2 linked regions of the Homo sapiens genome follow. The protein of the gene in region 1 interacts with the protein of each later gene in a pairwise test. Each region holds a gene or a part of one and is shown in the gene's direction. Other genes may lie near its edges.

Region 1 (3,500 bases):
AAGTCGTACCAGTTTCTTCTGGAGGCAAAGCAATTTTGCACAAAACCAGCTCTCTCAAGATGAGACTAGAAATTCATACCTGGTCTTGTAGCCACCTCTCTAAACTTGAAAATAGGTTCTTCTTCATAAGTGAGCTTACATCATTCTTCATAAAGAAAAATCCTATAACTTGTTATCATTTTTGCTTCAGATACTAAAAGGCACTAAGTTTCCAATTTACGCTGCTCAACTTTGTTTATATGCTTAAAAGGATTCTGTTTACTTAACAATTTTTTCCCCTAAAATACTATTTTCTGAATACTTCCTTCCAGTAAGGAATAAAGGAAAGCCCAACTTGGCCATAAAATTCTTGCCTACACTAGAAGTTTGTTGACAGCCATTAGCTGACTTGATCGTCATCTCCTAAGAGGAACACATATATTTTCACAAGCAATTCCACACTATCCTGATGGGTATGCAAAGTGGTGACAGTCTAACTCAGTGTTTCTTCATTTTAGGTATAACATTTTAAAGCAATTGATAATGCCTCTTCCAATTCAGAAGCTAGTATTGACCAAAATGTGAGAAGAGTGTATAGCATAGGAAAATTTGGGGTTAACCCAAAAGACACAATTCCAGCACACATAAGAAAGCTAGCTGCTATTTTATGCTTTCTTCCATGGTTCTCCTCTTTTTTCCCTTTTATTTTTCCCTGTTTTTCAATGATGTACAGTGTTCCCTACTTGCATTGAAAAAACTCGTATGGCATTCACACTTTTTTTCTTAGGTGGGTTTTTGTGTCCAGATGCAGTAAGAATTCATTGTTCATCCTAAAACTGTTTTCCAGACCCTTCCTTCCCCTTAGGTAATTTGATATACACCTCCTAAAATGACACAGTAACAAATCTGGTATTTAGAACATATAGAACATAAATGCCATTTTTTAATTCAACTTTAATAAGAATTACATTTGACTTTGGAGAATACAGGTCTTGACCCATGTGACTGACTAGCTGACCCGATCGCTGTAATTTAACGTCATTTATAAATTCTGCTGATGGACAGGAATGTATGAACTCAATTATTGTCAGCACAAAGCCTTAAAACCTGCTGACTTTAAATTAAATGGTGCAGTCCTATGATGCCCTGCACCATCCAGGGGACTAACAGGGCCTCGCAGTGTAGACAGAGGGTGCAGCCACACGGGCGGGGGCACCAGCCACCTCACTCTGCACCCGCGGCCTCACACATCTCCCAGCTCACACTCTACTAATGCACAGAGTCATTAGATCCAATTTGTTATTTTTCTCACTTGCTTTAAAAAAAAGCAGTTTGGATAATCATGACATTGGAATAAAGTGGGAAGGAAAAATTCCATCAGCACAAAATAGGGAAGTAATCCCAACTTGTAGTCACAGTTTTCTGACTGGCTTTGTTTTAAAAGAGGATGGCAGTCCTTGTTCGTGTCAGTGTGCCACTGGGTTTTTGCTGTTCCGTGTAATTCATATCAACTTTGTGTTGCCATTTGCAAGGTAAAAGGCAAAGCTGTAGTGTATTCACCTATGTAGACAGATTGCTAGATATCTTTTTGATCTGGGGCGAGTTCAATATTGATTCCAGACTTATTTGGATTTTTTTAGTATTATTTTCCCCTCCCTTTCTAATTTAAATAGACAAATTAAGCAAAAGTGTGTGTTCACAACCAAATGTTGATGCCCTTATCTACTGATAATATCCTCTCAATGTTCACTGAGGCATAGAAATTATTTCAGAGTAGAAATTGCAGCATGAGGATAAACTCACCTCTTTGTTCTGAAAATAGAACTTTATCACTATGCTTTCCGGTGGTTTTCCCTTTTACAATCGAAATCTTGTGCCTCCCAAGTGCATTGGAAAATGACAAAAGCCTGTCTCTCCAAATTCCTATTTAACAGTTTGATTTTTTTTTTTTAATCACCATCTTTCAAATCTTAGCTCAACTCTCACCAAGTGAAAATTGGCTACTTGGGAGAAAGTTAACTTTCTATGGTGGGATGGTGAAGGATGAGGGACAGTTTACATAGGAAAAGAAAAAAAAAAGTCTAAAGTCCATGTTGAAAAACCACACTACCACTTATTTTCTGCTAACCCTAAATTATTTTTGCGTATACGCTTGAGGTTATAGTCTGTGCCTAGACCTAAAATGCACCAGCGGGGGGGATTTTAAAAAATCCTTCAAAATACCAGTTTTTTCCCAACAAGTACAATTGTTCTTGTGCCTTCTGTGGCTTTCGATTTCATCTTTTTGACTTTATTTCCAATTACTACAGCTGCAATAAACACTAGATTTTTTTTCTGGCTGTTTGACATAACGTTGATAGCTATGCATATTTTGTGTCTTTTTAAAACAAAGCGGGAGAATACGTTTTTGAAGAAGAGAATTTTTAGAACAGTTTGATACCGCAAATTATTTTTTCCTCAATTGTTTGAGCAGCATTCGAGTTTTGAAAATTCTTGTAGAAGCCAATTTTTTGTAACTGTGGTGCAAATCTTGTGTTTTCTTAGCCTAATGAAAAGTAGTATAGAAGCAATATTTCATACCATGTGCTATATATGTGTGCGCAGATGTGTGAACATAAAATCACATACACACATATACACACATGTAAAAATATACATATATATATATGCGTGTGAAGTGGAAAGCTTACCTTTTCCTATCTAGATTTAAGAACCTATTTTAGACATTTGTTATGTTTTGTGAAAAGAATGTTCTATTTGCAACAAAACATTTAATTCTTACTGTATCTCTGGCTGTTTAATGAGGACGTTTCACATTAAATGGTAAAACACATGGAAGATGTTAGAATGTAGTAATTATTTAAGTAAACGTTCACCCACATATTCCTGAAGTTTGCTTTGTGCCTCCGAGTATTATTTAATTAAAGAAGTGTTTTATGTTTGCAGAATCTTTGTCACTGTACTAGGGATGTGGGTGAATATCATTTAAAAAAATTTAAAACAACAAAAAAAAAGCAAAACAGAAACACTAAAGCAAGAGGGGAACTTTTATAAAGCAATGTAAATATTTAACCTCATGGCTGTCATTATGTAAGACATGAGATTTTAATAAATAACTACATTCTCACGACATCTGTTGAATTTACTAGGAACACTACAGTGACTGTATAGACAGTTGAAAGCATTCTTGAAAATCCTGCTCTCTCCTTTTAAAAGTTAACAATCTCTTTTATCAGATGTCAAGGGCAAGGGTAATGCAGTTTCTGTAAATTTATGAAATTTCTTTTTCTATGTACATGAAGACATTTAGTAAGTAACACCCCCCCTTCCCATGCGCACATGTGCGCATACACACACACACACACACACACACACACACAAACACACACACTGTCATAAAGCTAATGATTTGGGGACTTTAAAAAATAGGATGTCCTCCAGGAACAATCATAAATTTATGAAAGAAAGAGTAGTTTACAGACTCCCCTGAAAGAAGCAGTGTATATGTGAAGACAGTGCAA
Region 2 (4,038 bases), on another chromosome or scaffold:
ATGTTAGAGGGGACCTACTGTGTGCCAGGCACTGTCCTTCACGCTGCAAATAGATTACCTCTAGTAATAATAGTAATGAAAAGGCTGGGTGTGGTGGCTCACGCCTGTAATCCCAGCACTTTGGGAGACTGAGGCAGGCAGATTACTTGACGTCAGGAGTTCAAGACCAGCCTGGCCAACATGGTGAAACCCCGTCTCTACTAAAAATACAAAAATCAGTTGTGTGTGGTGGTCCGTGCCTGTAATCCCAGCTACTCAGGAGGCTGAGGCAGGAGAATCGCTTGAACCTGGGAGGCGGGGGTTGCAGTGAGCCAAGATCATGCCATTGCACTCCAGCCTGGGCAACAAGAGCAAAACTTCATCTCAAAAAAATACATATATGTGTATATATATATAATATATATTATATATATATAATATATAGTGATATATATAGTATATAGTGATATATTACGTATAATATATATTATATATAGTGATATATATTTTATATATATATAGTGATATATATTATATATAGAGAGAGTGATGAAGTGGAAGATGAGCCCCATGTATTGAATGCTCCCTAAAGAGCTGTTTTTAAACACTTTATGTGGATTGTCTTACTTACCAACATGGTACCTGTGAAGTAGGAATTATTATTATCTCCATTTTACAGATAAGGAAACTGAGGCATGATTAACTTGCTCAAGGTCACACAACCGGAAAATGGCAGAGCTTGGATTTGAACTTCAGACCACCTGTCAATCCCAATTTCTCTCTCTCAAGCCCACATTCTTACCTACCACCTGCTATCCCACACTTACCAGAGGGTGAGATTTCTAGTTCTAGTTCCCTCCACAGCCTGGCCCAGCCTGTATCCTCTGTAGTGCTCAACACGAGGCTGGACTGGCAGAATTGTTCTGCAAAATGGGAAGGATCACTGATGCTGAGTCAGAGGCAGCAGCCTCCAGCAATTTGAAGGGGCGGGGGACCTAGTTCAAGGCCTGGCATGCAGGAGGTGCTCAATAAACATGTGTGGCCTGAATGAACTAATGAATAAGCATGATTCAGTGGAGACAGCCCACTAGAAATGTGGGTGAATGTTCTTTCTGCCACTTCCTTTGTCCATGAAAGAGGAAATAAATGCATTACCTCCATGAAGGTTGAGATTAAATATTGTATGACCGCTTAAGTTCCTTTCTAGGCTAAGGATCTAGAATTTATTCACTGATTTTTTTTTCATTCATTCATCCAGCCATCTAACAAAAAATATACATATAGTTATCAATAAATATATATTTATATATAAATATATATTTTTTAAAATATATATATATATAGTCTGTCACCCAGGCTGGAGTGCAGTGGCACCGTCTTGGCTCACTGCGACCTCCACCTCCCAGTTTCAAGCGATTCTCCCACCTCACCTCCTGAGTCGCTGGGATTACAGGCATGTGTCACCACGCCAGGTGAATTTTTGTATTATCAGTAGAGATGGGGTTTCACCATATTGACCAGGCTGGTCTCAAACTCCTGACCTCAAGTGATCCCCCCGCCTCGGCCTCTGACAGTGCTGGGCTTACAGGCATGAGCCACCATGCCTGGCCCTATTCAATAAATATTGACTATGCATGGTGCTAGGTGGTGAGTTTGAAAAGGCAAAGGCCGGGTGCAGTGGCTCACGCCTGTAATCCCAACATTTTGGGAGGCTGAGGCAGGCAGATTACTTGAGGTCAGAAGTTTGAGATGAGCCTGACCAGCATGGTGAAACCCCGTCTCTACTAAAATACAAAAATTAGCTGGGTGTGGTGGTGTGTGCCTGTAATCCCAGCTACTCGGGAGGCTGAGGCAGGAGAATCGCTTGAACCCAGGAGGCAGAGGTTGCGGTGAGCCGAGATCACGCCACTGCACTCCAGGCTGGGGGTCAGAGGGAGACTCAGTCTCAAAATAAAATAAAATAAAATAAAAATGGCAAATAAGACATACGCGTGCCCCTGCCAAACTCACAGTTGGATGGCACAACAATTACATCCTGTGTGGTCAGCAGTGATGGAGGGGCCGCAGAGATTTGGAAACAGGAGGGACACAGGATACAGATATAGGAGGGTAGAAGGCAGACTTCCTGGAGGAGGTGAAACCTAACCTGAGTCCCTAAGGTGATAGGAAGCAGGAACCAGGGAAGGGGAGCCTATTCTAACACAGTAGAAGCAGCAACTGCTGAGGTCTGGATGAGGGGACCTCAACTGTGGCCCAAAACCCCAAGTTCCCATTGTGGCTCTGCCAACAACTGGCTGTGCGACCCAGGACAAGTCCTATCTTTGCACTGTGTCTGGGTTTCCCCGTGTGTAAGATGAGGCGGTTGCTAGGTGCTTATTGGATGCATTCCTCAAGTCCCGCCCTCCATCTCCTATTCCCCTCTCTTCTGGTTTAGTGCTTTAGGAAATGTGGCAGAAATCTTTTTCTGCCTGTGTCTAGGAAATCATAATTCATGCTGGCGTACCCTGGTTGTTGAGGTCCCTGAATCCTTGTGCCCACACTGCTGAAGACTCCTTGTGTGATACAAGTCAGGGGACATCTGGGTCTTGACTCCCCAGATGCTCCAGCTGGACCCTGCTGCCCTCCCTTGCCCACCCTCTTCCATTGTAGATGCCAAGGGGCTGAGCGATCCAGGGAAGATCAAGCGGCTGCGTTCCCAGGTGCAGGTGAGCTTGGAGGACTACATCAACGACCGCCAGTATGACTCGCGTGGCCGCTTTGGAGAGCTGCTGCTGCTGCTGCCCACCTTGCAGAGCATCACCTGGCAGATGATCGAGCAGATCCAGTTCATCAAGCTCTTCGGCATGGCCAAGATTGACAACCTGTTGCAGGAGATGCTGCTGGGAGGTCCGTGCCAAGCCCAGGAGGGGCGGGGTTGGAGTGGGGACTCCCCAGGAGACAGGCCTCACACAGTGAGCTCACCCCTCAGCTCCTTGGCTTCCCCACTGTGCCGCTTTGGGCAAGTTGCTTAACCTGTCTGTGCCTCAGTTTCCTCACCAGAAAAATGGGAACAAGGCAATGGTCTATTTGTTCAGGCACCGAGAACCTAGCACGTGCCAGTCACTGTTCTAAGTGCTGGCAATTCAGCAAAGAACAAGATCTTTGCCCTCGGGGAGGCTGTGTGTGTGTGAGTATGTATGGATGCGTGGATATCTGTGTATATGCCCGTATGTGCGTGCATGTGTATATAAAGCCTCACATTTTATGATTTTGAAATAAACAGGTAATATGATAGAGTTTAACTGAAAAGGAATCCTCTTTAGATAGGGGAGGCCACAGGAGACCTCTCTGAAGTGGTGACTCTTGTGCTAAGACCCTAACGGCTGAAAGGAAATGGAAGGCTTAAAAGACAAGAGAGGAATATTCCAAGAAGAAGAAACTACTTCAAGGGCTGCGGATAGGAGAGAGTGTTGTGTTTGAGAAAGAAGGGCAAGGTTGTGAGATGGAGGACGTGTAGGAGGTGAAGATGGAGATTGGGCAGAAACCAAATCATAAACATATGGCTTTGTCAGCCTTTTCAGAAATTTGGATTTTATTCTCATTGCAACTATTGTAAGGAGAGTGAAAACCAGACTAAGTATTTTTATTCTTTGAGACAAAGTCTCCCTCAATCATCCAGGCTGGAGTGCAGTGGCACAATCTTGGCTGACTGCAACCTCCACCTCCCGAGTTCAAGCAATTCTCCTGCCACAGCCTCCTGAGTAGTTGGGATTACAGGCGCCCGCCACCACGCCCTGCTCATTTTTTTATATTTTTAGTAAAGACAGGGTTTCACCCTATTGGCCAAGATGGTCTCAAACTCCTGACCTCAAGTGATCACCCACCTCAGTCTCCCAAAGTGCTGGAATGACAGGTGTGAGCCGCCACACCCATCCCAGACTAATGCTTCAAACAAACCACTCTGTTGGGTAGAGAGTGAATTGCAGATTCCTGAGAATGTCACTGTCTCCAATCATGTGATGGATGATGGAGGCTTGGACCCTGGCAATGGAGCAGTGAAGATAAACCTGATCATCTATT

What was found.
Region 2: the proteins of PROX1 (region 1) and HNF4A interact in binary tests that used the Homo sapiens proteins (3 or more experiments, as listed by UniProt).

The regions. Positions count from the first base shown.
Region 1 is NC_000001.11:214,036,473-214,039,972, forward strand, and holds part of PROX1 (prospero homeobox protein 1), read left to right. Parts: 3' UTR 1-3,500. UniProt on the Homo sapiens protein: Transcription factor involved in developmental processes such as cell fate determination, gene transcriptional regulation and progenitor cell regulation in a number of organs.
Region 2 is NC_000020.11:44,421,390-44,425,427, forward strand, and holds part of HNF4A (hepatocyte nuclear factor 4-alpha), read left to right. Parts: intron 1-2,628; coding exon 2,629-2,865; coding exon of another isoform or gene 2,866-2,990; exon of another isoform or gene 2,991-3,254; intron 3,255-4,038. UniProt on the Homo sapiens protein: Transcriptional regulator which controls the expression of hepatic genes during the transition of endodermal cells to hepatic progenitor cells, facilitating the recruitment of RNA pol II to the promoters of target genes. Activates the transcription of CYP2C38.